Linked DNA regions of Homo sapiens. The protein of the gene in region 3 purifies or fractionates together with the protein of the main gene of each other region. This does not show direct contact. Each region holds a gene or a part of one and is shown on either strand. Other genes may lie near its edges.

Region 1 (3,736 bases), on a different chromosome or scaffold from region 3:
TGAGTAGAAGTTAGCCAGACAAAGAGGGCAGAAGCACTCCTGGTGGAGAAAACTGCATGTGGTAAGGCCGTGAGCAAGAGAGAGGGAGTATATTTATACTGTTGTTGGAACATGCTGGGCAAAAATGAGTGTGGAGAGAAATAGGCAAGACTTGTATCTATAAGAAGTAATGTCCATTGTTTCAGTTTTATCTTACAGGTGATGTGAATAGGGAATAATGGGATCAGATGGATCTTCTATAGGTGTGACAAGTGTTTTGGAGGGAAACATGGTGGATTCACGGCTAGGATGCTATGAAGACAGTCCAGGTGGGAGAGTACGTGGCTTTGGGATAGTAGTAGCAGTGGCATGGAGATAAGTGGACAACTTGAGAATAATTGAGAAGTGGTATCAATAGGATCTGGTGATTGATTGGATTTGAGAACTGAACTGAGGAAGAAGGGGGAAGGTGTTAAGATGATTTCCAAGGTTCTGGCTTAAGAGTTCAGTGTGTAATTTCAATGTGTGTAATTTCTTGAGATAAGGAACTCTGGGAACAAGGCAGATTTGGGTAGAGTGTGGCAGCATGTGAAGGTAAGTTAATTTTGGTCATGCCGAGATACAAGTGTCTGCAAAGCTTCTGAGAGCCAAAAGCAGTGTCTCAGAGGCACACTACTCAGTCTTACAGGAGAAGAGAGCACTTGTCAGGTGATCAGATGGGCTTCGCAGGTACTAGACAAAATTCTTGAGTCTAATAGTCAGATCTTAGGCAGGGCCAGCAGTAGAGAAGGAACTAGTGTTACTCCCGTGGGCTCTGCAATTCCAAATGTTACCATCTGGGTTACCAAGGGGATCTTACACCTTCTACCTTCCTAGATTGTTGGTGTCTGCAGAGAGGCTCAGTCTTCAACAGTGCTGTCCAGTAGAATGTGCTGCAGTGATGGGAAATGGTCTTAGAGATTTTCATGGAGTTTTAAGCTGTAAAAACTATGAGCCCTATTAATAGCACATTTTATAGAGGCTTCATGAAGTGTTGGGCTTGTTAAAGTAAATTTCAACCTGAGCTGAGCAGAATGAATATGTAGACATAAGCCCAAAAACGTAAAAGGTGTATCATTGGCCACGCGAGGTGACTTATGCCTGCCATCTCAGCACTTTGGGAGGCTGAGGTGGGTGGATCACTTGAGTCTAGGAATTCAAGACCAGCCTGGACAACATGGTGAAACCCTTTCGCTACAAAAAGTACAAAAATTAGCTGTGGGGATGATGGCGCATGCCTGTAGTTCCAGCTACTTGGGAGACTGAGGTGGGATGATCACCTGAGCCTGGGAGGTCGAGGCTGCGGTAAATCAAAATTGCACCACTTCACTCCAGCAGTGTCAAAAAAAGATTTTTTTCTAAAACATAGGAAAAGAAAATATTTCATAAGTAAGATTTGAGTAAAAAGATAAATAACTTGCAGTTAGTTCTGAAAGAAAATACAGGCAAATAGAAATTACCTATTTTTTTTTTTTTTGAGAGTCTCACTCTGTCACCCAAGCTGGAGTGCAGTGATGCAATCTCAGCTCACTGCAACCTCTACCTCCCGAGTTCAAGTGATTCTCCTGCCTTAGCCTCCTGAATAGCTGGGATTACAAGTGCGTGCCACCACGCCTGGCTAATTTTTGTATTTTTAGTAGAGACGGGGTTTCACCATGTTGGCCAGGCTTGTCTTGAACTCCTGACCTCAGGTGATCCACCCACCTCGGCCTCCCAAAGTGCTGGGATTACAGGTGTGAGCCACCACGGCCGGCCTAGAAATTACCTAAGTATTTCTAAATTACCTAAATAATCCAATGTTAAAAATAATCTGAGATTGCATTTGAGTCTAGTCTCTTAGCTAACAGAATAAATCTAGACTGGGGGATTCCCTGTATTATGTCATGTGACAAGGAGCCTGAGGGTGGAGCAGTTCTGGGGTTAGGTAGTGACTCAGTTGCTCAATGATGACATCAAGGACCTACCTAAATATTTTCCACTTTTTTCTTGCTGTCATGCTTAGTACACTGGTGATAGCTCCCTCTTATGATCACAAAAGAGCTGCACAATGTCAGGTTTTACATGCTAATACAAAGAAGGGTATTCTAGAAAAAAACACCTTTCCTAGAAGTATCTTAGCAGGCTTCTTATCAGGTGCTGGCGGCTGGAGTTTGGTCATCCAGCCATGCCTTAGCTGCAAGAGAGTGAGACAGCAAGTGTCTGGCATTTTCAGCATCAAAAACGAGGGGAAGTGGTGTTGGGGAAAGAGTGTCTGCAGGTGGGGGTGTGTGCTATTGACTTGGGAAGTAATCAAACCTATTAAGTTCAGCACTTTTTGGAGTTCTGTTGCTGGTTCTTTGAGGTAAGCATTGTTTGAAGGTTCTTATTTAGATTGAACGTGGAGGAGATGTGATAGTGGACTATGTAGTATCGTTATTAATACCTGTTTATCTTTTTCTCTCTTTTTTTTTCTTTGAGATGGAGTCTCACTCTGTTTCCAGGCTAGAGTGCAGTGGCGCAACCTTGGCTCGCTTCAACCTTTGCCTCCCGGGTTCAAGCGATTCTCCTGCCTCAGCCTCCCCGGTAGCTGGGACTACAGGCACCCGCCACCATGCCCAGCTAACTTTTGTATTTTTAGTAGAGATGGGGTTTCACCATTTTGGCCAGGATGGTCTCCATCTCTTGATCTTGTGATCCGCCCACCTCAGCCTTCCAAAGTGCTGGGATTACAGGTGTGAGCCACCACGCCCGGCCTGTTTATCTTTTTCTAAGTAGTATCACCATTTAGTAGACAGGAGACATTTGCCAAATTAACCAGTGTTGGATATATTTGTTTTTATTTGTGAGTGAAAATACTAAAACAGATCTAGGATTGATAGTGATAATAGAAGTGCCATGTGTTTATATAGGTTACCGGGCATTTTTATGTGTGTTATGAAGTTTGAATCCTACCAACCACCTTGTAAGTAGAGGAGACAGCTTTTATTAACACTGTTTTACAAATGAGAAAACTGAGACCAACAGAGTGAATGACTAGTCTAAGGTCCAGAGTCAGGACCAGAAACAAAGTCTTTTTTGTTCATTCTCTTTATTTACACTCTCATTGAGGATCTTATTTGGCTCCTTCTGATAGGAGAAGCTTTAGATAACCTTAATTATTTTTATTTTTATTTTATTTTTTTTTTTGAGATGAAGTTTCACTCTTGTTGCCCAGGTTGGAGTGCAATGGTGTGATCTCGGCTCACCGTAACCTCCGCCCCCTGGGTTCAAGAAGTTCTCCTGCCTCAGCCTCCCAAGTAGCTGGGATCACAGGCATGTGCCACCACACCCAGCTAATTTTGTAGTTTTAGTAGAGATGGGGTTTCTCCATGTTGGTCAGGCTGGTCTCGAACTGTCGACCTCAGGTGATCTGCCTGCTTCGGCCTCCCAAAGTGTTGGGATTACAGGCGTGAGCCACCGTGCCCAGCCACCTTAATTAATTACAATATATAGCTTGCCTCAGGTAAGAAAAAAAAAATCTCACTTTTTCAACATTTCATAAGCAGCATGGACTGTACTAAGAGCTGAAGGAGCTTACAGCGCCTAGGATATGGATGAGGATGGTCACCTGCTAGAGATGGCAGCACATACCTGCCTGGTAGGGTGAGAAGTTTCAGCTGATGATGTTTGAGCATGAATCTTGAAAGACAGAGGGTGTTCTGCAAGCAGAGAGGAGGCAGGAGCAAAGACAAGGGCGTGG
Region 2 (2,403 bases), on a different chromosome or scaffold from region 3:
AACAAAAGAGTATCTAAGAGACCAGAGAGAACACTGTGCCTCTGTTTAGAAGTATAACAAGGACATGGATGAAGCTGGAAACCATCATTCTCAGCACACTATCGCAAGGACAAAAAACCAAATATCGCATGTTCTCACTCATAGGTTGGAATTGAACAATGGACACAGGAAGGGGAACATCACACACCAGGGCCTGTTGTGGGGTGGGGGGAGGCGGGAGGGATAGCATTTGGAGATATACCTAATGTTAAATGACGAGTTACTGGGTGCAGCACACCAACATGACACATGTATACATATGTAACTAACCTGCACGTTGTGCATACGTACCCTAGAACTTACAGTATAATTTAAAAAAAAAAGAAGTATAACGAGGACAGTTTAGATGCTTGAAAAAAAAATCTGCTACAAAGCTAAAGAGGGAAAAAAGATAAAAACTATAGATACACTGTGTTGAAAATAATGCAAAGTTCTACATGAACAAAGCAGAGGGTAATGTATCAAAGTGCAAAAGGCAGTTTTATTAAGAATTATGGGGATTTTATTTTTCAGAAGTCCACATTTTCTGAAGTGTGGTTATTTTGCCTGCATAATTTAAAAAGCATACTGAAAGCATTTCATAAACGATAGCACTCCGTATAAAGTATGATCACCAAGAGGGCAGCTTATTCTTGCTTAGGACTAAGTAGAAATAACATTCATTCAAGATTAACTCTGTCTTCCTGTCTCTGAAGAGTGTTGGGACAGGGAGAGCCGCCTTTTCCAGGGTTTGCAAAACAGCTCCATGTGGGACCACCATGGAGCCCGTCTCCCTGGGCTTCAGCTTCCCCTCTCCAGTGGGTGCTGGGAGGGGCTTCTTCTGTGACCTGGGCTGGTGACTGGTGCTACATAGTGAGAAGCCCTGCAGGGCAGCCTCACCAGCCCAGGGTGGCCCTGCCCAGCCCTGGTCAGTGAAGAGGAGCTTCCAGACACACCCATCCTGATGTTGTGCCCATCTTCCCTGAATGCACTGGGCACCTGCCTGGTAGCTCCCAATTTCTCACTAGGGGCTAAATGGCAAGAGGTGATGTTGGCATGTTAGGATCTGGCTACAATGATGCTGGGCCGTGCTGTGACAGCTGTGGGAATGCCCCTGACTGCACTGTCACTAAACACACAGCTCTGCAGTAGAGCTATTTACATGAGTTAAGTCCAGGAAATTCACTTTTTCCAAATGCCCACCACCCAAGATTATTCTCCTCTCTAGCAATATAATAATGTTCACTGGAAAGTGATGCTAGTCATAATTCTTGTTTTATTATTATTCTGAAAATAATAGTTTATGGAGGAAACTCCTGATTAAAGCCGTGTCAGGAGCCCGTCCGAGGATACAACAGTTGATATACCTCCTTTTAATTTCACACAGGGTCTTGCTTTGTCACCCAGGCTGCAGTGCAGTGCTGTGAATCATGGCTCACTGCAGCCTTGACCTCCTAGGCTCAAATGATCCTCCCACCTCAGCCTCCTGAGTAGCTGGGACCACAGGGACATGCCGCCACATCTGGCTAATTTTTGCATTTTTTGTAGAGACGAGGTCTCACCATGTTGTCCAGGCTGGTCCTAGACTCCTGGGCTCAAGTGATCCCCTTGCCTTGGCCTCCCACAGTGTTAAGATTACAGGTGTGAGCCATGGCACCCAACGATATCCCTTCTTTTTATTGGCAAGAAAGATCTTTCCCCTTGTCAACAACTTCCAGGCCCATCAAGGAAAACAGGTGGCAAGACTACCTCAAATGACTCTCAACACTCCTCCTGGAGTGTGGCCCTTCTGGGGAGGTGACTGACTTTAACTAGAGGAGGCACCCTGGCATGCAGACCTGATGGGGGTGATAAGGCAAGGCTCCCACACCTGGAGGAAGGTGGTCTGGATCTAGGAGCCAGGGAGGACCAGGGTGCTTTCCTTGTTGAGTAGCTCAGAAAGCAGCTACTGACACCAAAGCACATCATGTTAGTTTCGAGGTTTGCTCCCCAGGGAGAAATTCCTGCCAGCTCTGGGGGGAACCACGCACAAGAGCTTTGCCACATCCAGCGCGTCGATGGGATCCACGTCCCTCAGTCCAGCATCCCCTGCACCCAGCAGGCTGCCAGGCACGTAGTATGTGCTGAGCAGGTGTTTGTTGAACTGGATGGCCAAGGGCTTCCCCTCGCTGTGCAGCCTCTGGTGCTCAGTGAGGTGCGAGCTCCAGTTGAACATCTCCCCACATTTCTCACACTTAAACGACTTCTCCCCGGAGTGGATTTTCTGATGTTTAATGAGACAGTGGTTCTGGCTGAAGGCTCTGCCGCACTCGCTGCACTTGTAGGGCTTCTCACCGGTGTGGATGCGCTGGTGCACGATGAGGGACGAGTGGCAGCTGAAGGCCT
Region 3 (3,736 bases):
AGTCTCTCAGTCTCATACATTCATTCTTCAACACTTGTGAAATATCATTTCCTTTTAGAAATGATACGTTTAAAATCATTTAGAAGCTGGTATGCCTCCTCTAGATTCCTCTACCTTACAAAGAGTATACATAACATAGCACTAACTAGTCTGGGCTTGGTGGCTCACGCCTGTAATCCTAGCACTTTGGGAGGCCAAGGTGAGTGGATCATCTAAGGTCAGGAGTTCAAGACCAGCCTGGCCAACATGGTGAAACCCGTCTCTACTAAAATACAAAAATTAGCCGGGCATGATGGCAGATGCCTGTAATCTCAGCTACTGGGGAGGCTGAGATGGGAGAATCACTTGAACCCGGGAGACAGTGATTGCAGTGAGCTGAGATCGCGCCACTGCACTCCAGCCTGGGCGGCTGAGGTGAGACTCCATCTCAAAAAACAAAATAACTAAATGTTAAAGTAGGTGATTTTGACTCAGTGTGAGTTGAATGGATGTAATATGGCCTCTCTTTATATTTTGCTACTTCTAGTACTTGAAATTTTAGAACAAGAGCCTTTCTCTATAGATCATCTATTACTAATTCATAATTCAGCATGATATTTATAATAGAAATGGTTTAAAAAGATGCCTATATCTTTAGTTCTTATTCAAATAATATTAGAGAATTTCTGTCCTCTTTTTTTTTTTCTTCTGCTTTTTAATGATTTCACTTACTAGCATCACCTCCAAAGAGAGATAACACTTATTTCACTTATTTGGTCCTTGTTGCTTTTTTTTTTTTGAGACGGAATCTCACTCGGTCGCCAGGCTGGAGTGCAGTGGCGCAGTCTCGGCTCACTGCACTCTCCGCCTCCCAGTTTCAAGCGATTCCCCTACCTCAGCCTCCCAAGTAGCTGGGATTACAGGCGCCTGCCACCACGCCCGGCTAATTTTTTGCAGTTTTAGTAGAGACGGGGTTTCACCCTGTTGGCCAGGATGGTCTCAATCGCTTGACCTTGTGATCCACCTTCCTCGGGCTCCCAAAGTGCTGAGATTACAGATCTGAGCCACTGTGCCCTGACGTTCCTTTTTTTATTAACACTAATAAGCAGCTCCAGTTAAGACAGACAGAAATAAGTACCTGATGCATAAGCACAGCATATCTTTATAAAGCTCTCTTTATACCTCCCCTCCCACATTTGTATCTATAATTAGAAATTTGATCAACACTGTTAACTGTTAACCTCTGATAGAGCAAAGTTGAGGCCTAATTACAACATAAGTCTGAAGAATGCTAATTGTTTTCCATGACCATAATCACCCAGTATCTCATGTAAGTTTATGTATCAGGTACCAGGAATCAGCTGGTACCATGTCAAAAAACATTGTGTTGGAACCAGTGTTTCTCCTTTGTGTTGTTCTTAATGATGGACTGTTTCAGATGTATCAAAAAAAAATGAGGAATAATATGGCAAGTACCCATTTCTCCCCATCCCCTTAAGAAATTAAACATTAGGGCTAGGCGCGGTGGCTCACGCCTGTAATCCCAACAGTTTGGGAGGCCGAGGCAAGTGGATCATGAGGGCAGGAGTTCGAAACCAGCTTGGCCAATATGGTGAAACCCCGTCTCTACTAAAACTGCAAAAAATTAGCCAGGCATGGTGGTGGGCACCTGTAGTCCTAGCTACTCATGAGGCTGAGTCAGGAGAATCGCTTGAACCCAGGAGGCAGAGGTTGCAGTGAGCCGAGATCATGCCATTTGCACTCTAGCCTGGGCGACAGAGTGAGACTCCATCTCAAAAAAATAAATAATAAAATAAAACATTAAAGACACAATTGAAGCCCCCATGTTCTCCCCAGTTCCTCATTGCAGACCCCATGAAGTAAGTACTAACTTAGCTTTCTCTTAAAACCTTTGTTCTTATAAACTCCATAGAAGTAGTATATGTTTCCTGAAACTTGCTGTGTGCTTCCATTTGTCTAAATCAATGTCGTACTTTGCTATATTCTGTCACACTGGTCCCTTCTCAGGCAGGCCTCTCTGTGTTGCTCTCCAGGTGGTGGTGCCTCCCAAAGAGCTCGTTTTAGCTGGCAAGGATGCAGCAGCAGAGTACGATGAGTTGGCAGAACCTCAAGACTTTCAGGACGATCCTGAGTGAGTGATCTTTTTGTGATCCCCATACAACAAATGGCTGATAATAGAATGCCCACTTATATCCAGTTTTCTTGTCTGGATTTTTTAAAATAACTTTTTTCTTCCTGTTTCTAAAAATAATTATTGTAGAAAATTGGGGAAATATATGTAAGACCATGAAGAAGAAAATAAAATTATCCCACCACCAGAGATAAACACCATTAGCATTTTGGCATTTGTCCTTCCAAATATTTCTCACCTCATTGGGATCATTCTATAAATACAGTTTTTTAGCCTTTTTCACTTGAATATATTTTCCCATGTTAATAAAGAAATTTTTAATTATATGATTTTAATGGTTGTGGACAGGATACAATACTCTGTCCCTAGAGATTGATCATCGGGTTTGTTCCCCACCCCCACCCCCTTGGAGGAATTAATAGATTTTACTCTCTCATATCTAATAACTGAAAAGAACCAAACCTTCCAGTAACTGGGGACTGTGACCATCAGAGAATTCAGTCTGTAGACTGAATGTTTTCAATGATTCGAACAGAGGATTTAATATAAATAATTGTTCACTTGTGTAACTTAAAAAGTGAAAAAGAACACTGAAGTAGCAATTTTATGCTACTTCATGGGCATAAAATTTCAAAGATAGCTATTTGATGAGCCAGCTACCACCCCTTAGGTGGAGGGAACAAAGGGAAATAGTTAGAATTATTAAAATTTAGAACTTAAACAAAGAGCTCCATGTAGCTGAAACTCAGGCCTCCAGTGAGCTGAAGGGGAACACTGCTTGCGTGGTCCTGGCATCTCGTGATGGCAAAGGAGGGGTGGCATGATTATACAAGAATTGGAAAACTTCAACTGCTTACTGCCACTTCCTCCTGGGTAAAGAAGCATTGCTGGGCCGGGCATGGTGGCTTACCCCTGTATTCTCAACACTTTGGGAGGCTGAGGCAGGAGGATTGCTTCACAGGAGTTTGAAACCAGCCTAGGAATAGAGTTAAGACTCCGTCTCTACAAAAAAATTTTAAAAATAGCCAGGTGTAGCAGCGCATGCTTGTAGTCCCAGCTACTCAGGATACCAGGGTGGGAGAATCAGTTGAGCCCGGTAGGCTGAGGCTGCAGTCAGCTGTGATTGTGACTGTACTCCAGCCTGGGCAACAGAGTGATACCCTGTCTCAAAAAAAAAAAGACATTTTTGGAGTGATGGCCACAGGGAACAGGGACCACAAGCAAACAGGAATCTCTAAAGGAAGAGCAAGACCCTTCCTCCTCCAGACTTCTAGTCTCCCTTTAGAGCCCGCTGCTGACAGAACCTGACAAAGAGCCATCCGATCCAGCAGATACAGTCCAAGCAGAATCCTGTGTCACAAAGCAAAATTGAGAGAGGTGCGCTTGGAGCTGAAAAATAATAGCTTAGTAAACTGGCACAGGGAACATTCACAGTCTTTGTTTTGTTTTTAGAGAAGGAGTCTCTGTCGCCCAGGCTGGAGTGCAATGGCGTGATCTCCTGCTCACTGCAACCTCCACCTCCCGAGTTCAAGCAGTTCTCCTGCCTCAGCCTCCTGAGGAGCTTGTATTACAGGCAAGCGCCACCACGCCTGGCCAATTTTTGTA

Evidence for each region.
Region 1: the proteins of DCTN4 (region 3) and SEH1L fractionate together in Homo sapiens (co-fractionation; one large-scale study listed by BioGRID). This does not show direct contact.
Region 2: the proteins of DCTN4 (region 3) and ZNF74 purify together in Homo sapiens (co-immunoprecipitation; one large-scale study listed by IntAct). This does not show direct contact.

What each region holds. Positions count from the first base shown.
Region 1 is NC_000018.10:12,971,827-12,975,562, forward strand, and holds part of SEH1L (nucleoporin SEH1), read left to right. Parts: intron 1-3,736. UniProt on the Homo sapiens protein: Component of the Nup107-160 subcomplex of the nuclear pore complex (NPC). The Nup107-160 subcomplex is required for the assembly of a functional NPC.
Region 2 is NC_000022.11:20,406,553-20,408,955, reverse strand, and holds the end of ZNF74 (zinc finger protein 74), read right to left. Parts: coding exon 1,988-2,403; 3' UTR 501-1,987; downstream 1-500. UniProt on the Homo sapiens protein: May play a role in RNA metabolism.
Region 3 is NC_000005.10:150,713,960-150,717,695, reverse strand, and holds part of DCTN4 (dynactin subunit 4), read left to right. Parts: intron 1-2,033; coding exon 2,034-2,131; intron 2,132-3,736. UniProt on the Homo sapiens protein: Part of the dynactin complex that activates the molecular motor dynein for ultra-processive transport along microtubules.